Homo sapiens: one gene and its partners. The protein of the gene in region 1 purifies or fractionates together with the protein of each later gene. This does not show direct contact. Each region holds a gene or a part of one and is shown on either strand. Other genes may lie near its edges. The genes, in order: POR, NNT, BCKDHB, HK1 and SQOR.

The links.
Region 2: the proteins of POR (region 1) and NNT fractionate together in Homo sapiens (co-fractionation; one large-scale study listed by BioGRID). This does not show direct contact.
Region 3: the proteins of POR (region 1) and BCKDHB fractionate together in Homo sapiens (co-fractionation; one large-scale study listed by BioGRID). This does not show direct contact.
Region 4: the proteins of POR (region 1) and HK1 fractionate together in Homo sapiens (co-fractionation; one large-scale study listed by BioGRID). This does not show direct contact.
Region 5: the proteins of POR (region 1) and SQOR fractionate together in Homo sapiens (co-fractionation; one large-scale study listed by BioGRID). This does not show direct contact.

The regions. Positions count from the first base shown.
Region 1 is NC_000007.14:75,952,648-75,957,437, reverse strand, and holds part of POR (NADPH--cytochrome P450 reductase), read right to left. Parts: intron 3,450-4,790; 5' UTR 3,437-3,449; coding exon 3,258-3,436; intron 531-3,257; coding exon of another isoform or gene 477-530; intron 1-476. UniProt on the Homo sapiens protein: This enzyme is required for electron transfer from NADP to cytochrome P450 in microsomes. It can also provide electron transfer to heme oxygenase and cytochrome B5.
Region 2 is NC_000005.10:43,651,680-43,655,179, reverse strand, and holds part of NNT (NAD(P) transhydrogenase, mitochondrial), read right to left. Parts: intron 3,442-3,500; coding exon 3,296-3,441; intron 2,163-3,295; coding exon 1,967-2,162; intron 1-1,966. UniProt on the Homo sapiens protein: The transhydrogenation between NADH and NADP is coupled to respiration and ATP hydrolysis and functions as a proton pump across the membrane. May play a role in reactive oxygen species (ROS) detoxification in the adrenal gland.
Region 3 is NC_000006.12:80,199,961-80,204,750, forward strand, and holds part of BCKDHB (2-oxoisovalerate dehydrogenase subunit beta, mitochondrial isoform 1 precursor), read left to right. Parts: intron 1-973; coding exon 974-1,071; intron 1,072-3,141; coding exon 3,142-3,252; coding exon of another isoform or gene 3,253-3,258; exon of another isoform or gene 3,259-4,790. UniProt on the Homo sapiens protein: Together with BCKDHA forms the heterotetrameric E1 subunit of the mitochondrial branched-chain alpha-ketoacid dehydrogenase (BCKD) complex.
Region 4 is NC_000010.11:69,391,847-69,395,346, reverse strand, and holds part of HK1 (hexokinase-1), read right to left. Parts: intron 3,223-3,500; coding exon 3,039-3,222; intron 398-3,038; coding exon 242-397; intron 1-241. UniProt on the Homo sapiens protein: Catalyzes the phosphorylation of various hexoses, such as D-glucose, D-glucosamine, D-fructose, D-mannose and 2-deoxy-D-glucose, to hexose 6-phosphate (D-glucose 6-phosphate, D-glucosamine 6-phosphate, D-fructose 6-phosphate, D-mannose 6-phosphate and 2-deoxy-D-glucose 6-phosphate, respectively).
Region 5 is NC_000015.10:45,675,841-45,680,630, reverse strand, and holds part of SQOR (sulfide:quinone oxidoreductase, mitochondrial), read right to left. Parts: intron 4,531-4,790; coding exon 4,321-4,530; intron 1-4,320. UniProt on the Homo sapiens protein: Catalyzes the oxidation of hydrogen sulfide with the help of a quinone, such as ubiquinone-10, giving rise to thiosulfate and ultimately to sulfane (molecular sulfur) atoms.

The DNA of each region.
Region 1 (4,790 bases):
GGTCTCTTTATCTTGAGTACTACTACGCTTTTTTATCAAAAGTACTATTCCACACCAGCAATGCCCCGTGTACCAGCCCTGGACAGGATGGGCTGGATTCCAGCTGATCTGCCCTTCCTATATCGGGCCCTCTGCTCTAAAGTCCTTTCAGCTTCAGGGTGTGGCTCTACCTTTAAGAACCTGCCCAACACCCCTCCTGCAGGACTTGGTCTGATCCCCACACCAATTCCTTCTCTCTTAGAGCTGGCGGAGCCTGTCTCTCCAGCCTGTGCCCTGGGCACATCCCATAACCTCTCTGAGAGCAGAAATGAGGCAACCCACGCTACCTAACGCACGGCGCTGTTGCAAGGAGGCCCTGATTAGACAATGTAGGTTAAAGCAGTTCACAAAGCATTTCTAAAAAGTACGCTGTGGCCGGGTGTGGTGGCTCACGCCTATAATCCCAGCACTATGGGAGGCAGAGGCAGGCAGCTCACCTGAGGTCGGGAGTTTGAGACCAGCCTGGCCAACATGGTGAAACCCCGTCTCTACTAAAAATACAAAAATTAGCCAGGCGTGGTAGCATGTGCCTGTAGTCCCAGGCACTCGGGAGACTGAGGCACGAGAATCGCCTGAACCCGGGAGGCGGAGGTTGCAGTGAGCCGAGATTGCACCACTGCACTCCAGCCTGAGTGACAAGAGCAAAAGTCTGTCTCAAAAAAAAAAAAACTATGTTGCAACACCCTCATTTTCCAGCTTAACATAAATGCTGGCTCTGTGGTCCTGATCGTGCCCGTCATAGTGCCTGGCACGAAATACGATCAACGCAAACACTACACAGCTCCTATCCCTCAGGGGCAGTGCTAGGTGAGTTTATAGACTCTTCCTCATTTAAGACAAAAGCCCCACAAGATTGGGAATACTGCCTCCATTTAGCAGGTGAGGAAACTGAGGCAGAATGAGGTTAAGGTCTCGCCCAGGGTTCACTCACCACTAGAGCGTAAGCTTGATGAAGACAGCATTCATCTATTTTCTTCACTGCTGCAGCCACACACCTTAGCATAGTGTCTGGGACACTGTAGGTAGGGCCTCAGGAAATGTTTGCTCAGTGAGTCAATGATGGAGATAAGATTGAACCCAGTTTTGTTTTGTTTTGTTTTGTTTTTGAGACGGACTCTGTCTCCCAGGCTGGAATGCAGTGGCGCATTCTTGGCTCACTGCAACCTCTGCCTCCTGGGTTCAAGCGATTCTTCTGCCTCAGCTTCCCTAGTAGCTGAAATTACAGGCATGCACCACCACGCCCAGCTAGTTTTTGTATTTTCGGTAGAGACGGGGTTTCGCCATGTTGGCCAGGCTGGTCTCGAACTCCTGACCTCAAGTGATTTCTCCCGCCTCGGCCTCCCAAAGTGGTGGAATTACAGACGTGAGCCGCTGTGCCTGGCCCTGAACCCAGTTTTTAAAAATGTAAAACTAATTCCCTGTCCATGGTATAAGAACTGTGTTGTGTGAATATCTGCTTTACGGTGTGAAGGCTGTAAGTGTTCTGGCGGGGAAGGCTGATACCCAGATTGGAATAGGGAATCGGGATTTGATGTGAGCGGCATGCTTCACCATGCCCAGCCTTGGAGAATGACTTTTCTGTGTGGCTTGTTCCTGCCAAGACAGCCACAGCCTTGGACTGGAACTGACATGACAGATGGCCCCCACTGGTGTCAGCACCAGCCCAGGGTGGCCCTGGGGTGCAAGCTAAGGCTGCAGCTGGGACTGGGTCCCCTGAAGACAGACAGAATGAAAGGGGTTCTGGTCTGAGAATGGCTCCCAATCCTGCCCCTGAGACCTGCCCCTTGCCAAATCCAGGGAGTCCCTGAAGGCAGCAGGCCCGTGCCCCTGGAGTTCCCTCGGCTCAGACCTGACCTGGCAGGTCCCCACTCAAACCTGGCTGCGGGCCCCTGGAGTCTGAGACTGGTGTTAAACACAGCCAAGCGTAACCGCAGGAAGTAATTCTGGCCGCAGGACCCTAAAATCTGGAGAATGACTTTTCCGTGTGGCTTATGGAAATCAATCTTGGAGAGACAGGGATGCAGTCACTTAGGCAGACCTTCGGTATCATTTTTTTCTGTCTACATACCATCTATACTATTATTTCCTTAACGTTTTTCTTTTAACTAATCCATCTTTTTCACTTATTCTTAAAAGGAAGCTTCATGAAAAGTTTAAAAGAGCAACAAAATAAGGCCTGTCCAAAGATTTTGTGCTCATTAGCACATAGCCTTCCAGGTGGCTACAGCCTTAAAAAGACTTTAAAATGCCAATTCTAGGCTGGGTACAGTGGCTCACGCCTGTAATCCCGACACTCTGGGAGACCAAGGTGTGCGGATTGCTTGAGTCCAGGTGTTCGAGACCAGCCCGGGACATGGCAAATCCCTGTCTCTATAAAAAAATACAAAAATTGACTGGGCGCAACGGCTCACACCTGTAATCCCAGCACTTTGGGAGGCCGAGGTGGGCGGATCACTTGAGGTCAGGAGTTTGAGACCAGCCTGGCCAACATGGTGAGACCCTGTCTCTACTAAAAATACAAAAAATAGCCAGGCGTGGTGGCGGGCACCTGTAATCCAAGCTACTCAGGAGGCTGAGGCAGAAGAATTGCTTGAGCCTGGGAGGCAGAGGTTGCAGTGAGCCGAGATCGCACCGCTGTACTCCAGACTGGTTGAAAGAACAAGATTCTGCTTCAAAAAAAAAAAAAAAAAAATTAGCTGGGCATAGTGGTGCACACCTTTAGTCCCAGCTACTCGGGAGGCTGAGGTGGGAAGACTGCCTGAGCCTGGGAGGTGGAGATTACAGTGAACCTTGATCGTGCCACCGCCATTGCACTCCAGCCTGGGCAATACAGTGAGACCATGTCTCCAAATAAATAAATAAATAAATAAATGGAAAAAAGGGTTCCAGCTCTAGCGCTGCTATTGCTGGCTAATGACCCTGGCAGGCCCGTTAACATTCTTGAGCCCCCGGTTCTTAATCTGTAAACTGGTGTCATTTTCGCAGTGCTTCCTGTGAAGGTCATATAAACAGCAGATAGAAAAGGGCCTTATAAACCCCACATAAGAGATGATTAAGGGAGAGCTCAAGCACAATCTAGCAAGAAGGCAAAACCCAAGAGTCACCCCAAAATGCTACAAGGAGCCTTGCTTCTTTCAGCCTGAGGCCCGCATGCAGGACACTGCTTGGAGTGGTGACAGAAGAGGGACAGAGAGAGGAGGCTGAGAGGCGGCACTTACAATGTCTGAATTTTGGTGAACTCGGGGACTTCTTCTTTTTTCTTTCTGAAGAGGAACCAGTAGGTTAGGAGACCCACGATGAGCGAAAACAGAATCATGTCCGTCATGCTGAAAAGAGATACTTCTTCGGCCACCGCCTCGGACACGGTGGAGCTGGTGTCCACGTGGGAGTCTCCCATGTTGATCATGAAACTGTTAGGAGACAGAAACAGCAGATGTCAGCAGAGGGTAGCAGGGTGCCCCTGAGGCTGGCTGGGGTGCCCACCTAAATGCTGGGCCTTGCCCCTGGGGCTGCAGGAAATGGTCACTGCACGGGGTAGGAGAAGGGGCTCACTCAGCCAGGTTCCTGCCAAGACAGCCACAGTCTTGGACTGGGGCTGACATAACAGACAGCCCCCAGTGGTGTCAGCACCAGCCCAGGGTGGTCCTGGGGTGCAAGCTAAGGCAGCAGCTGGGACTGGGTCCCTGGAAGACAGAGAAAATGACAGCCACTGACTCTCAGTGTGCTGGAACATCCTCTAATCCCACAAGGACACCGCACGGGGGGCAGGCGGGAGGAAGTGCACGCAAGAGTGGACCATTTCGCAGCAAACCCTTTCCCCAGCTGTGTGGCTGGCGGGGGTTGCCCTAAACCCTGCATGTTCCAAGTCTCCAGGCCTGGCCCTTGAGTGGCTCCTGATATTCACGAGCCTTGGACTATCCTGACTGGCAAGAGTGTCTCTGTATTCCTAAAACCTTGGGCTATGAAGGTAGTTCCTGTTAACAATGAGATTTATGGTGAATGCCTGCTTTCCTATGCCTGGGAGTCTTTTTTTTTTTTTTTTAAGAGACAAAGTCTGGTCCCTCCCCCTCCCCCTCCCCCTCCCTCTTTCCACGGTCTCCCTCTGATGCCCAGCCGAAGCTGGACTGTACTGCTGCCATCTCGGCTCACTGCAACCTCCCTGCCTGATTCTCCTGCCTCAGCCTGCCGAGTGCCTGCGATTGCAGGCGCGCGCCGCCACGCCTGACTGGTTCTCGTATTTTTTTGGTGGAAACGGGGTTTCGCTGTGTTGGCCGGGCTGGTCTCCAGCTCCTAACCGCGAGTGATCCTCCAGCCTCGGCCTCCCGAGGTGCCGGGATTGCAGACGGAGTCTCGTTCCCTCAGTGCTCAATGGTGCCCAGGCTGGAGTGCAGTGGCTTGATCTCGGCTCGCTACAACCACCTCCCAGCCGCCTGCCTTGGCCTCCCAAAGAGCCGAGATTGCAGCCTCTGCCCGGCCGCCACCCCGTCTGGGAAGTGAGGAGCGTCTCTGCCTGGCTGCCCATCGTCTGGGATGTTAGGAGCCCCTCTGCCTGGCTGCCCAGTCTGGAAAGTGAGGAGCGTCTCTGCCCGGCCGCCATCCCATCTAGGAAGTGAGGAGCGCCTCTTCTCCACCGCCATCCCATCTAGGAAGTGAGGAGCGTCTCTGCCTGGCCGCCCATCGTCTGAGATGTGGGGAGCGCCTCTGCCCCGCCGCCCCGTCTGGGATGTGAGGAGCGCCTCTGCCCGGCCGCG
Region 2 (3,500 bases), on another chromosome or scaffold:
CTCCCCATTGCAACCCAGGCCCTCTTCTCTATAGCCAGTGCTTTCTCCTGAGCACATAAGAAACACCTGGAACATGAAGAAGACCTTGGTTTTCAGGTGGGTAGGTGGGAGCAAAGTCCCAAGGTAAAGAAATGCAAAAATCTGGGCAGTAAATACCCAAATTAGGAGCCTCTGAAGGAACTGCATGGCTATAGGTAGGTGATACAGAAGGAGTGGGGCTCAGAATATTTGCTAAGATCATGTCTAAAGGTTTTCCTGCCATGAACCTACAGAGCAAACATTTTCCTTCAAGTCCCTTTCCCCAGAGATTATCAAGAAAAGAGTCAAAGCTTTCCTGAGGAAGTATAAAAGGAGGCCTAAAGCCAGTGTTCCACTGGGAAACATTTAATAACCAGTTCCAGGGGAAAAAAATACATGCACATACAAATACATGAGCTTTAACTGATATAAAGGTGGCTAGCACACAATTTTCAAATAATAAGAAATAGTGCTCTTTACTGAAAATTCCATGTAGACAAATTGACTTTCAAAGAATGTTTTTATGGATCTTTGCTAAACTCTTACATCTGTAGCCAACCTAGTGTTTGCAACTGATGAACAAGCATACTTCCAACAGGAACATTGTTTGATATTTTTATTTGCTTTAATAAGTAAGACGAAAGTAAAACAACAGAATGTATGCGAGAACTTCACTCATTTATCAACCATATGAATGACTTTATTGCTGAATCTGATAATAGTTTTCAAATACTGGAAGATTATTTGCTCAATTATTTGTGCTATTCACAATGTCACAGCTACAGTCAAAACATCTCAAGTTTAAGCTGCATCATTAACATTTTCTCCATCACTTTCTCACGTCTGGACAATAAACAAAACAATAAATCAAGCCCAGATTTGTAGCGTTTGCTTATTTCCACACTGCAATACTGCTACCAAGTCAAATTTCAATCTACCAATGTGATGTCATTGAATGTAGAATTGGAAAGAGATGTACCACAGCCCACTGATACATAGTATTTCTTCTATACACATACAATAGACATAAGTAACCTCAAGAGCATAGACAATAAAACCTAGTAAATTAATTAGAAAGTTACGAGTTTTTAATATTATTAACTTTGTTTCTGATTCATTTAAGTTTATGTAATTTAGTATTTAATAATGGCTGTGTTTAACAATCAACTTTAAAAATTCCTGGAAAAAAAATTTTTTTTTTTTTTTTGAGACAGAGTCTCGCTTTGTCACCCAGGCTGGAGTGCAGCAGCATGATCACAGCTCACTGCAACCTCCACATCCCAGGTTCAAGCGATTATCATGCTTCAGCCACCCAAGAAGCTGGGATTACAGTTGTACGCCACCATGCCCAACTAATTTTTGTATATTTAATAGCGACGGGGTTTCACCATGTTGGCCAGGCCAGTTTCAAACTCCTGGCCTCAAGTGATCCACCCACATCAGCCTCCCAAAGTGCTGGGATTACAGTCTGAGCCACCATGCCCAGCCTAAAAATTCCTGAAAATTTAACAATCCAGCAAACAACTGAATAAAATTAAAACAGTAGTTTTTCTGCTGGCACATGTTTTTTTTTTTTTTTTTCATTTTTAACAGGTCTATGAAGCAGAATCTTTGGCTGTTATTTATACCCAGCAGAACAAAAGTTAGCTTATGTATAGTACATACATAAGGATTCCAATCCCCCATTCCATTATCAGCTAACGGGACACAGTCAGTAAAGGAAGATAAGAATTGAGTATAGGATATTTTGACTCAGTTGATGCATTTATTCAGTGTTCTAAAATGTATTTGAATGAGAATTACACCAACTGGAATGAATTTTCACCAAAATAATATTAACTGAAGCAACTTCCATGAACAAAATTTAATTATTTCATCAATATGGACCTTAGAAATATATATTGAGAAACTGGAGTTCACATGAAGGCAGAAGCCCACAAGTGCTTACCAATGGTACCACCCAAAGCCATCGCTCCAGACATCTGAGCTAGTAATTCTGGGCCCGGTTTTAGGACTCCGAGGGTGGCTGCCAGTCCTCCAGCAACCCCAATCATGCCCAGTGCATTGCCAAGACGTGCTGTTCCCTGGGTGGAGAGGCCAGCCAAGGCACCGACACAGCACAAACCCGAGCCTAGGTACATGATCTTTTCAAAGGAAAAGTGAGAGAGAGATTATTAAAACCTTTGGTCTATTAGCTTAGAGATTTCAATATATTTTCCTGCCAATTAGGAATATTAACATATTAAATACTTATATTGTATTTGCACTTATACCATTTATATAAATTGATTTTTTCTGGATTTGCTATCATGCACAAATACACATAAAAGTACCTAAATTTAAATGGAGTCATTACTGGATCTAAAAATACTAAACCTGACCAAATGCTGTAAAAGAGCCAACCCCTGAGGTAAGTGCCAGGGGCTTTGCCACATGTTTTATTTGTGTTGTCACAGTGTCATGAGATCCACAAGAGGGAAAAATCATTATCCTCATTTTGCAAAAGACAGAATCAAAGCTTAAAGAAGTTGCATATTTTCTCCAAGGCAAATGATCAATAAATTGGAAATCTGGAATTCAGACTAAGGTCTTTCTGACTCACTGCTCCAACTCTTCTCAAAAAAAAAAAAAAAATTGTTCATTCAATAAATACTGCAGGTTGGAAACATAGAAGAAACTAAAAGACAGCCATTGAAAAGAAATAGAAAATACAGAGTTCAGAACAAAGCTGAAGGTCTGTTATATTACAAGTTGGAACTTTCAAAGTCCAGCTGGATTATTTCTGTTTTTCTATACAACATTAAGTTTAAACTATCCTTTTCTTTATGGATTTTTTTATGAATATATAACATCTCTTAGTAGCAAGAGATGATGTGCTGGATTTGTAGAGGAAGAATAGGAAAAGAACTAATAGTACTTAATAATAATTTTTCAAATTTTGTATTGTTTCATTATAAATCCACCGCAATCTAGCTAGATACATAATGAAGATACTGATAACCTTAACTCCTCTTACATGTGGAAAAATGTATCAAAACAAAGACATAAACCCATATTTAAACTCAGTTACCAGAAAAATCTGTCTCTAGAATCCAGGGTCCTGATCCTTAGGGGAAGAGAATGCTCAGTTTGACCAAGATGTTTCTAGGGTTATTGTTGTATTTGCTTGACAGAGTTGTATTTGCTCGATACTTTGAATTAGGATAACTAACAATGTTAAATCTAATAGAGAAGAAAATATTGTGGTAAATATAAAAACTTACAAAGAGCATCTTACCTGTTCAATGTTATAACCACTGTAGAGGGCAGCTAAATATCCACCAACAAAGGTGCCGGCAGGGAGCAGGTACAGGTAGTTGTATTCTGGGGGGTCAGTGGGACGCTTGAACATGTCCAGCATTCTCTGAGTCACCAGAAAGCCACCTTAGCAAACCAAAGGAAATAAAAAACATAGTACCTCTTTGAGCTCACTGAGCAACATG
Region 3 (4,790 bases), on another chromosome or scaffold:
TACTTGGGAGGCTGAGGCAGGAGAATCACTTGAGCCTGGGAGGCAGAGGTTGCAGATCACACCACTGCACTCCAGCCTGGGTGACAGAGTGAGACCCTGTCTCAAAAAAAAAAAAAAAAAAAAAAAAAAGAACTAAAGAAGGCTTCTCAGCATAACTGGGCAGTTTTATCAACTTCGTACTCAATTTTATTTTGAAATTCAGTTTATAATTTTCTCCCAGATTCAGTCATCTCTATATAACTTGGTTGGGCAGAGAAGTTCATAAAATGGTTTTCTCTCAGATACCAGTGGCTTCCTTTTGGCTTGGTAGAGCTGATTTAGTTTATCTTTTTGAGGTCTACAGTATTCAGCTTTGAAAAGTAAGGTGTTGTCAGTGACTCTGATTGATGAAGTGTTCATAGATCTAAGGTGAAAAAATACAATCTACTTTAAAATTTTTGGCCCTACTATTTTTTCCAAACCCCCATAAATTTGCTACTTTCTAGAAAATTGATCTGAGAACTTAATTCAGTTTAATAAAGTTTTATCACATGTAATAACAATTTTTAAGAACAATTTTAGATTTACAGAAAAAGTATGAACATAGTACAAAGTTCTTAGATACCACACACAGGGTTTGCCTTATTAACATCTTACATACATGTAGGATACAATTATTATAGTTAATAAACCAATATTGATACATTCTTATTGACTAATGTTCCTTCTTTATTACGATTTCTTTAGTTTCTAAAGTTTATTTTTTTGTTCCAAGATAGCTGATATGTTTTATACATTTATATTGCATTTATTCATCTGTGCAGTAATGTCATGGAGCCATATCATAAATGCTATTTCTGTTTTAAGTAATACAGAATTTAGAGAAACAAAAAATAAAATAAAGCTTTGCTACAGTGAGCTTCTTAAATTATTTTATGCACAAGTGTCACCTCAGAAAAAATGTCCTTTTTTTTTTTTCCTGTTCTGTATTTAGCGGAAGAAGTCCCTATAGAACCATACAACATCCCACTGTCCCAGGCCGAAGTCATACAGGAAGGGAGTGATGTTACTCTAGTTGCCTGGGGCACTCAGGTGAGTAGCATTGATCCCAACTGTTAAAACCTACGTTGTGCTTGGAAGCTCTCATTTTAAATCCTGATACATGAAAAATTGAAAACGATGTTTTCTTTATATCTCAGATTAAGTCTGGTGCTACTGATGCTAATTTCTTTTTTCCCTCAACTTTATTGGTGTGTAATTGACAAATGAAATTATATATCTTCAAGGTATATATGTGATGATTTGATATATGCATACATTGTGAAATGATTGCCATAATCAAATTAATTAATGGATCCATCACCACACATAGTTACTATTTTGTGTGTGGGGGTGGGGGCGAGGACACTTCAGATCTATTATTTTCCCTAGTCACTGCTGTATATTAGATCCTGAGAACTTCCTCATCTTATAACTGAAAGTCTGTGGTACGGATTTCTGAGTGAAGGTGAGGTGTCTATATATATTAAAATGTATATGCATGTGGTGGCCATAAATATATTACAACAATGTATTAATTAGAAACACATATCTTTTGGAATACATGTATACCCATGTTACTTTCGCTGCAAATGGCTATAATCTTTTTCATCACATTTCCTGCCATCTCTCATCATTACTTTGCTGCTCACGTGGACCCATCCACTGGTCAAGCCTCAAAATTCCATATCTTCCTTTTTTTCCAGTGACCCTCTCTGCTGATCCACTTCATTTTCCCCCCGACTTGCTGTCACTTTGCTCTACCTCCCAACTTTTTCTCTGGCCACGAACTCCTATCTCTTCTACTTTTCTCTCTCCTTCTTTTACAGATATGGTCAGTTTTAATTTTTCTGTATAAAGGAAATCCTTATTTTAGGAAATTTAGGGCAATGCAATATAAAGAAGATAACAAAAATAGTTTTCAATATCACAAGCTCCTACTCTCCTTTCCTTTTGATTTTTGGCATGGAGAGCTAGAGTCCTTATGGTTTCTCACCTTCAGTGGGGTAACTCTGCTGCTTGGCGAGTTGTATCCCATTGATATTGTCCTTGGTGGGTGTGGCAAACCTTTTTGCTATCCTTCTGTCCACTTTTTGATCCACATCTCTGTGGTCAGCTCATGACCTTACTTCTCTTTTTAATAGGGAGGTTAGAGTGTATTAGGTATTAATTCAGATAACTTGCTCTTCCTCTTGCTTCTAATTCTTTCCTTCTTCCCTTTGTCTTGAAGAAGAGGTGTCTGGTTTACTTAGCAACCTCTGCAAATCAGTTTCAGACTGCGTTCCATTTTACCTTCTCCAGGACTGTAGTCTATTAGCTAGTCCATCTCTCTCCTGCATCTTCAGTTTTCCATTTCTTGTTGCTCTTATTTAAAAAGTATGTTTCTCTTCACTATTTAAAGATTCCTTTCTCCTTAAATACGATTATGTCTCCCTCCTTTTAACACTGAACTTGAACAACTGTTTTCTAGTGTCTGTATTTAATTTCTTAAATTCATTATATTTTTGTAGCTGTGAGTTCTATTCCCACTAATTTACTGTTTTTGTCAACATTACTGATCTTCTAGTTGTTTAAATTCAGCTCTTATTCCTGCTATGGTATGTGATACTGGCTGCTATCCCTATGAAATCTTTTCCTCTTAAGTTTCTGCAATACACTGTCTCCTGGTTTTCTTTCTAGCTCTTTAACCGTTCTTTTTATCTCCTTTTTTTCTTTCCTTCCCTCCATTTTTCCCTCCCTCCCTCCCTCTCTTTCTTCCTTCCTCTCCTCTTGGTCCATTTTTTCCTTAAATGTTGGTGATTTTTACCCTTTACTTCTCCCTCTACATGCTTTCTACGTATTTGTATGACTTCATTTACCTTCTACATGCCATCTTTGTAATCAGTATCTGTGGTACTGACTTCTCTCTCTAAGCACCTCTTTCCATCTGTTTTCTAGACATCTATACTTGTTATTTTCGCAGAATATGGGCTTCAACATATTTAAAACAAATTTATAAATTCTCCATGCAGATCAGTTCCTGAGACTTTAAATACTGTCTCTAATAGTGACATCAGCATTCAACTAGTTTTTGAGGCTAGAACCTTTGTAGTCATTCTCTGCATATTTTTCTCTTTATTTCAGGTTCATGTGATCCGAGAGGTAGCTTCCATGGCAAAAGAAAAGCTTGGAGTGTCTTGTGAAGTCATTGATCTGAGGACTATAATACCTTGGGATGTGGACACAATTTGTAAGGTATGAATATAATGGTGATAGAATGTCATTTCCCTGAAACCTTTGGCCAAATATGTTGTATATTTGCAAATAATTCTTTTGAAATTGTGAGCTATGTGAGCATTTTCAATTGATTTAAAACTTTTAAATTTGCAGCATGAAAGAAAGTTGTATAAACAGCTTCATGCTCAAGGAAACAAATCACTATAGAATTTATTTTTCCTCCTGTAGTTTCCTTTGTTTAAAATATTACAAAATGGGGTCCTTTATGCAGTCACCTTGGGTTGAATTGTGTGAGTCATAGAGCATATCAAGGATGCCGAAGGCACCTGTGTTTTTGACTTCTTATTAGTTATGGTTCAGTAAGCTAGGTTTAATTTAGTCAGGTAAATTAAGTGATTTGGCTGAATTTTCATTTATCTTCTCTCCAAAAGTAATGGGGATGGATTTTTTAAAAACATAACTCTGTATATAGTCTTAATACTGTGGATTACAGTCTAAGGGTTATGTGGAGATTCTGGCTCCTCTAATTTACAGTTTCTATCTAAGTAGCCTCATGACCTTTGGCCTGATTACATTGGTCTTGTTTTTACTATTAAGATTTACATAGCCAGTTCCCTCTTAAGAATATAGTTTAGCTCTCATTTACCTCTTTATATCCAGTATCTTTCACACCAATGCCAAGATAATTTAAGAAGCATCTATTTTCATATTGATACAAAGAAGGTTAAGCACTCTGTTTGTAATAGTCTTATCAATTAAGTCTAGCTACATGTAAATTATATGTACCTAGTCTTAATAGATAAGTACAATAGATATATGTACGATTAATAGATAGATGTACAATTACATGTAAAATTGTAGGAAACAATGACATGTATTATTTTTTCTTGATATACTGCTATAGTATAGGGCATTTTATATTTACCACTTTTAAGAGCTTTGGCATTTTCATAGCTTTTACAGGCTCTTTCTTGGGTTAGTTACATGAAAATAACCTGCAGATACTACTGTAAAAGTATAGCCTAGGATGTTTTTAGGTGAAGAGTGTTTTATAATTTAGTAGAAGATGTAAGATTTGTTATAGTAAATGTTTGTGAAGACTCACTTGACACCATCTAAACACTTGACATGCTTACAAATGATCCCGAGCCATTCTATTTGTAGTTGCTGTAATTAAGAGCAATATTTCAGATTGAGTTATTCATAGCTTCATGAAAATAACGCTTTTTGCAGGCATTTTCAAATCAAGTCAGACACCGGGTTTTCTTTCAAATAGCCAGACGTTCCAAATTATAGTTAAACTAGAGTTGTCTTCTTGTTTGCAACATATATCCACCACTTATCCTGGGGTTTGTATTTTTAGTGTAGATGGTGCTTTTGTATGGGGATATGATGTTTTATGATGGCGCAGTGCGGAGGGCATTCACATATGGTCAGGGCAAGCACTTTTAGAACTTTATTTACGTATCTATCTATATATATATAAATAATACCTTAAACATTCAAAAAGCATTTGTAGCAGCTTATTGTAAAGCACAAGTATACTAATACTTCAT
Region 4 (3,500 bases), on another chromosome or scaffold:
CTCGGCCTCCCAAAGTGCTGGGATTACAGGCATGAGCCACCACACCAGGCCAAGAAAAGTAATTTATAATAAAATTATAAGATTTCACTATGCAAATGCCCAGGGTCTGCTATTCCAGAGGAAAAAAAATCCTCAAAAATGGCCAAAATGTCCCCTAGGGTCCCTACCACCCCCATCACAATCCACCAGCCAGGCGACCTCTGAAGGGTGGGCGCTGGCAGGGAAGACACTGCCCACTCACCTCTCGATCTGAGAGAGAAACTTGGTCTCAAAGATGCCCCGGGTCTTCAGCGTCTCAGAGATCTGCCCTCGGAAGAGGAATCCCTTCTTGGTGAAGTCGATTAAGATGTTGCGGACGATTTCACCCAGGTACATACCACTGATCATCTTCTCATACCTGAGACAGGAGGAGGGGCCTGGGGTGTCTATGGGAAGTGGCCAGGAGAACTGTCACCCCTCGGTCTCACGGTCACTCCGCGTCTCCTACTGCCCCTCAAGCGCATCATCAACAGCCATGTGCCCAGCCCTGTGCTCTGCCGCAGAGGCAGAGTGGGAGGACCAGGAAGGACCAGGGAGTCCTCCACTCTCTCACATCAGAAACAAAACCACCAGCATTCATGTCTACCTGCTAGACTGGTCTCCCTCCTCAGCTGCCTGATAGCTCTCAGCCCCAAGGTCACTTCCCCGAGAGCCTGTCCTCCTCCTGATCCTGGGTTCTACCTGCCTGTTTCAGGTTCCCACACACCTCACCATTCTCCTCCTTCACAACACACCTGAGCTCACTGCCTCCCACCACCACTGCTGTAGTGACAGCCCCAAGAGGACAGGGCATGTGTGTCTTTTTCAGCTCTGAGTCCCCAGGGCACAGCACAGCATAGCATAGCACTGGGCCCTCAGGAAAGTGCCCAAAAACTATCTGCAGAATAAGCAAATGACTGGGCTAAGTCTTAAAGGAACAAGAAGACAAAAAAAAGGAAAGTTTCTAGATTTTTCTAAAGGTTTTGCAAATACCCAGAGTACTGGTCAAGCCCACAGCAGAGTGATGAGGCCACACAGGAGGGAGAATTCAGTGACCACAACACACTGGAGGTCAACCTGTTCTTGGGACTTCAAATTTCCTGCCCTCTCCATGCTCAAGGATCTCAAGAAATAACAAAGGATTGATTCATTTCCATGGCACATGCCCAAGCCCAGTGTCCCAAAGCTGAGAAGAGTCCCCTGGAATTTGGAACTCCAGGATTCCTCCTATTTCATGTGGTCCATGGAAGAACATGAAACAGAATGGAATCACAGAGGGGTGGGCCACCACTACGAAGTCCCACCCAGTCCTTCTCATTCCACCACAAAGACCACCCCAGTTTGGTGCTGACATGTCCTTAACCCCTTCCAACACTTGCTGATCCCCCCGCTTTTTAACCAAGGGGGTCTTACTATTATTGTTGTTATTATTGTTATTAATTTTTAGTAGAGACAGGGTCTCAACCCTATGTTGCCCAGGGTGGTCTCAACCTCCTGAGCTCAAGCAATCCTCCCACCTTGGCCTCCCAAAGTGCTGGGATTACTTTGATGATAGACTGCACTCAGCCCAAAGGGGGTCTTAGTTCAGGTCATTTGGTAGGCGACAGCATCAGCTAGACTTGAATAGCACGGTTCTTCACTATACTCATTTTTTAGTTACCATCTCTTTATGGTACTATTGGTTCTTCCTCTTTTTCCTCCTTCATTAAATGTCAGTAAAGACCTTAAAGGCCACTGGGCACGGTGGCTCACGCCTATAATCCCAGCACTTTGGGAGGCTGAGGCGGGCCAATCACCTGAGGTCAGGAGTTCGAGACCAGTCTGACCAACATGGTGAAACCTGGTCTCTACCAAAAATACAAAAACTAGCTGGGCGTGGTGCCGTGCACCTGTAATCCCAGCTACCTGGGAGGCTGAGGCAGGAGAATCACTTGAACCCAGGAGGTGGCAGTGAGCTGAGCTCGCACCACTGCACTCTAGCCTGGACAACAGGGTGAGACTCTGTCTCAAAAAAAAAAGAAAAGAAAAGAAAAGAAAAAGACTATAAGGGCTGGTTGCGGTGGCTCACACCTGTAATCCCAGCACTTTAGGAGACCTAGACAGGCGGATCACCTGAGGTCGGGAGTTCAAGACCAGCCTGACCAACATGGAGAAACCCCGTCTCTACTAAAAATACAAAATTAGCTGGGCATGGTTGTGTATGCCTGTAATCCCAGCTACTGGGGAGGCTGAGGCAGGAGAACTGCTTGAACCCGGGAGGTGGAGGTTGTGGTGAGCCGAGATCACGCCATTGCACTCCAGCCTGGGCAACAAGAGCAAAACTCCACCTCAAACAAAAAGAAAAACAAAAAACTGTAAGCTGATTCGAAGAAAAGCACTAAGTAAATAACAGCATGGGTGGTATTTAGAAAAGGCAAAAACCTTGAGGGGGCTAGGGAGTGACTCATGCTGGGTGCTGCTCCAGCCCTTCTTTCTGCTCCTAGGGAGACAACTTGGACCAACTCATCCTGGCCGTGGCAGAGGATGGCCTGATTCCTGGGGGCTTGAGACAAAGGGCAGACACTGCCATTTCAGACATGGTACCTGAGACCTGAGCTGCAAAGCTCCACAAGGCCACTAGGTGGTGCAGGAGGCTCACGGAGGAAAGGACGATTGCGACAGGGCCTCTGCTTCACACCAACCTGCCGCCCAGCCACCCTCACCCCACCCCCTTGTTATTCTGATGGGAAAGGAACACAGCAAGGGGACCGGAAGGCCAGAATCCTCCAGGCTAAAAAACAGTCACAGGCAGCCCCTAGACAGGCATCAACCCTGGGCCATCTTGTACCATGTTGGGGGTCTGTCCTCCCTGGTTCTCTGCTGTCCAAAAGACAAAGGTCAGGAGTGAGCCAGGGGGTCCAGTCTTGAAACCTCTGTTCAGACCTCTCCTCCTAGAAACTTCTTCCACTGCAAGTGGCAGAATGCAGCCAAGTGCTGCCCCCACCCTGACTGTGAGTGTCCTCTCCACCAGGCGGGGTTACCTTTGTTTCCCAGCATTTAGGGAATATTCGTCCACCAGTCTGTCGTAGTGTGTCCTGATATCATCCAGACACCCGTTGTCCCCAAAGGCCCCCCACTCCATGTTGATGCACATCTGCCCCTGGTCCCCCTCCACCATCTCCACGTTCTTCATCTCCTCCATGTAGCAGGCATTGCTGCCGGTCCCTGGAACACACGAGGGGGCAATGAGGAGCGGTGGCCTTGCATTTGGGGGTCTTGCAACTGGGCCTGGGGTCTGGGGCCTGAGGTTCCACAGGCAGGGGGCACGTTTTTTGTGATGAACAAAGTAATAGTTTTTCTTTCCCAATTTTGAAATGGAAAAATTTGAAATGTAAATGGAGAGTCTGAGCCACATCACCCAGAGGGCACCTGCTTAGCTGACTTTCAACCAAGAGCCAATGTGTTCACCCGTCCAGGCAGGGTTATGTTTATTTTAATAGAAG
Region 5 (4,790 bases), on another chromosome or scaffold:
CAGCCTGGGTAACGTAGTCAAACCCCTCTCTACCAAAAACACAAAAAATTATCTAGGCATAGTAGCACATGCCTGTTGTCCCAGCTCCTCAGGAGATTGAGGTAGGAGGATGGCTTGCTTGAGGCTGGGAGGTGGGGGTTGCAGTGAGCCAAGATGGCACCACTGCACTCCAGCCTGGGTGACAGAGCAAGATCCTGCCTCCAAAAGAAAAAAAGAAATAAAAAGAAATTAACATTGGGCCAGGTGTGGTGGCTCACACCTGTAATCCCAACACTTTGGGAGGCCAAGGTGGGCAGATCACTTGAGCCCAGGAGTTTGAGGCCAGCCTGAGCAACACAGCAAAACCCAGTCTTTAAAAAAATACAAAAATTACCCGGGCATGGTAGTGCATGCCTATAGACCCAGCTACTCAGGAGGCTGAGGTAGGAGGATTGCCTGAGCCTGGGAAGTAGAGGCTGCAGTGAGCCATGAGCCACGGTTGTACCACTGCACTCCAACCTAGGTAACAGAGTGAGACCCTGTCTACAAAAAAAAAGAAAGAAAGAAAAAAACAAACAAACAAACACTGGCACTTAGTTGTAGCTTGTTCATTATCTATCATTTATTTCTGTAACTGTATAGGATAAATAACTTGGTCCTCCTTCATTAACATACATAGTCCAATCAGTGTGGTGGTTTTCAAACTTTAATGTTTATTAGCAGCATTGGGGAGACTTGTGGAAAATACAGGTTCCCAGGCTACACCATGCCAAGATCCCAATCTAGTAGATCTGGGTAAAGCACGGGAATCTGTACTTTAAAATCTGCTAGTGATTCTGATATGTAAAATCTGTGGATCACATGCTTACAATCTCTGGCTTGAAGGAACAGGTTCATTTACAAAGAAAAATAGAATGCTATTATTTGGACAAGTCACTTCATCTCTTTGGTCTTTAGTTTGCTTATCCATAAAGAAATGCACTAGACTAGACAATCTCCAAAGTGTCTTCTAGTTCCTCCGCCTCCCAGGTTCAAGCAATTCTCTGCCTCAGCCTCCCAAGTAGCTGGGATTACAGGCTCCTGCCACCATGCCCGGCTAATTTTTGTATTTTCAGTAGATACAGGTTTCACCATCTTGGCCAGGCAGGTCTCAAACTCCTGACTTCGTGATCCACCCGCCTCGGCCTCCCAAAGTGCTGGGATTATAGACTTGAGCCACCACGTCCGGCCCAATTCTTCACACCAGTTGTTTTCAATCCTGGTTGAACATTAGTCATTAGGGGAATTTTTGAAACTCCCCATCCTCAATCTGCACCCCAAACCAATTAATTAAAACCTCTTATAAAGAGGCCAGGCATCAGCACATTTTAAAAGCTCCCTAATATGTAGCCAGGGTTAAGAGCCACAGCTTTACATCCTTCTGGTGGATTTTTTGAAATTCAGATTTTAAGAGTGGAACTAAATATCTGACCTGAAATCCTATAATTCAAAGGGGACACAAATATCTTCTTTAATTACAAACCCCTTAGAAGAATAATAACCATTCATTTATCCACACCCCTACCTACAACCTCAGCTATCCAGAGGACAGCTGGGAAACGAAGTACTAACAAAGTTAAGTTCATGCACTCAAGTTCATACACTTTGCTCATAAAAGGATGCTTCGGGCTCTTACTCATAGCTCATTTTAGTGAAAGCCCAACTTGGGCTCACTCAAACGGACTCTCTCAAATGGGCTCTTTTGTAAAGTAAAAATGAGTTCACTCATATGAGCTCTCACTCATAGCCCATTTGAGTGAGGCCATTTGAGGAGCAGCAATTTAAAAAAGCTAAAGCTGGAGGGACCTCCCAAAGTCACTAACAACGGCCTGACAGCCAGGAAAAAGGAAAACTACAAAAAGGACACACAAAAAACAAACAGCAGTAATTTGAGACCCTTTTATAAAGTGATAACTAGCTCCAAACATTCCAGTAGCCTCTGTGTGCATAACTACACAGGAGCTATTCAAAATGATGACCCTGAGCTGCTGCAGATAGATACTAGATGAGCCTGGGACAACCTGTGACACCAGAAAGTAAAGGAAGTGCTCAAACACATGATGGGGCATGTCACAGGGACACAAGAGCCAGCTGGAAGGGAAATCTACTGACCAAATCCAAAACAATTTGAGCACCATAATAATTAAAAACAATAATGAATGATAACACTGTAAGAAAAAATATAGGAACTCATGAGTTCATACCAATAGTTAATTAACTAAGAAGCAAAGACTCTCGCTGAAAGAATGCCAAGAGCTTACTGGTAAATGTGCAGGAAATGTCACAGTTAGCAAATCACCATTTTGCAACCACCATAGTAAAGATTTGATTAGGCAAGGATCATCAATGGATGCTAACTCTAGTGGGGAGACTTGAATGAGTAGACTATTTACATGGTTTTAAAGTGTCTTCCCACAGACTTCTTATTAGTAGCAAGGGAGAAAACAAATTGTAATTATCCCCTGGAAAAACTGGACCACATCTTGACTGCTGATCAAAATTAACATCACCAATGAAGGGCAGATGAACACTGTATGCTTGCAAATGTGATACCTTAGAATGGCACAATGCTTATGCAATGTTCCAGTCTAACAAACAGAGCCTGAGGCCAGGTGCGATGGCTCATGCCTGTAATCCCAGCACTTCAGGAGGCCGAGCAGGTGGATGGCTTGAGGTCAGCAGTTCGAGACCAGCCTGGCCAACATGGTGAAACCTCGCCGCTACTAAAAATAAAAAATAAAAAAATTAGCCGGGCATGGTGGTGCACACCTGTAGTCCCAGCTACTCATGAAGCTGAGGCAAGAGAATCGCTTGAACCTGGGAAGCAGAGGCTGCAGTGAGCTGAGATTGCACCACTGCACTCCAGCCTGGGTAACACAGCGAGACTTCGTCTCAAAAATAAATAAATAAATAAATACATATCAAAGCCTGAAACTAATCACAAGAAAACACTGACAAACTCAAAATGAGGAACATTCTACTGAAAGAAAAGTGGTGGGGGAGAGGGCTGTATTATTTCAAAATATCAACGTCATAGAAGACAAAGAAAAGCTATAGAAACATCACAGATTAAAGGAGGCTAAATAGACCTCACAATTGAATGTAATACCTGACTGTAGCCTGAGTCCTGCACTGGAGGAAAAAATGCTACAAACACAGTTGGGCCAATCAACTAAATTGGAATACAAATAGTAAGTTAAAAAATTGTATCTGTGCTAAATTTCCTGAGTTGATAATGGTACTGTGGTTATGTAAGAGAACACTTCTATTTTAGAAAATTAACACTAAAGTATTTGGGGCTAAAGAGAGCTGATGCATGATATATGTAAATTTCCTTGGAAAAACTAGATATGGATGGATAGATAGATAGACAAAGGCAGATAGAAGAAAGAGAGAAAGAAAGAAAGGAAAGAAGGAAGGAAGGAAGGAAGGAAGAAATCAAATGATAAAGCTAAAGCAAATGGTAAAATTCTACAAGTGAATCTAGGTAAAAGCTACATACAATTTTCTTTGTACTATTTTTATTTTGTAACTTCTCTAAGTTTGAGATTATTTCTTTTTTTTTTTTTTTTTAGACGGAGTCTCACTCTGTCACCCAGGCTGGAGTGCAGTGGTACAATCTCGGCTCACTGCAGCCTCCGCCTTCTGGGTTCCAGCGATTCTCCTGCCTCAGCCTCCCGGGTAGCTGGGATTACAGGGATGTGCCACCACGCCCAGCTAATTTTTGTATTTTTAGTAGAGATGGGGCTTCACCATGTTGGCCAGCCTGGTCTCGAACTCCTGACCTCAAGTGATCCACCTGCCTTGGCCTTCCAAAGTGCTGGGATTACAGGCGTGAGCCACCATGCCCAGCCAATCCCTGTTTTCTTCAACTACCCACAGGGTTACTTCCTGCTCACAAGCAGGACTGTTTCTCACATGCCACCAATTGAGACAATCACCAGATCTTGCATTCGAGGAAGCCCTCCCTTACCTCTACACAGTAACCAAAGTTGTGGAATATTTTTGGCTACCTCAAGTGACTCGATGCCAGGAAAAGTTGAGTCAAAGGAATAGGACAAAAATTCACTTGGCACCAGCTAACGACACCTTCTCACCTCCCACTGACACAGCCTCTTACATCTTTCTCTTCCCCAACCATTTTGGCCTACCTTCTTGCCCTAACACTTCCCTAAGATGCTCATTTCACCCAGTCTTCCCCAGCACACAATGATGGCAGATAGGGTGGTGTGAGCCCCCATGTATCTATGGCACGTTTCAGCAGACAACGCTTCATGCTGACAGCTTAGCCTCACCACTCACTGAAATCACTTGGGTCTCTCCTGGTTTGTCCAGGTTCTCAAATACAGCCTCTTGTTTATCGGCTCGGACTTCAATGAGGTTTTTCTTGTAGTTAACAGTGAGGTTCCGCTCCTGGATGATCTCCTGCAGGGCATCTGCATACTTCTTAACCCCGAAAATGGCTCCAAGAGAAGTGTTGAAAATGATATTGGCCTTGGATCGCTTCCCTGTCTGAGAAAAATAAGAAAACCATTCACACCAAAGCATGACTGCAGCTGCCTTTTTTTTTTTTAATCCAGACAAGAATTAAAACCCTCAGCAGGGACCTTGCTAGCTTTTGCCACCATTATGTCCTGGCAGAGCAATGGGTAGACCAATCCACTGCCTCCTCCTTATGTTCTGCCCATGACATACAACTAAGTACACACTTGAGTTGGGGGCTGAGGTGGGCACTGTCCAGCTGAAGGCCAGAGGTGAAGGTTAGGTCCAGG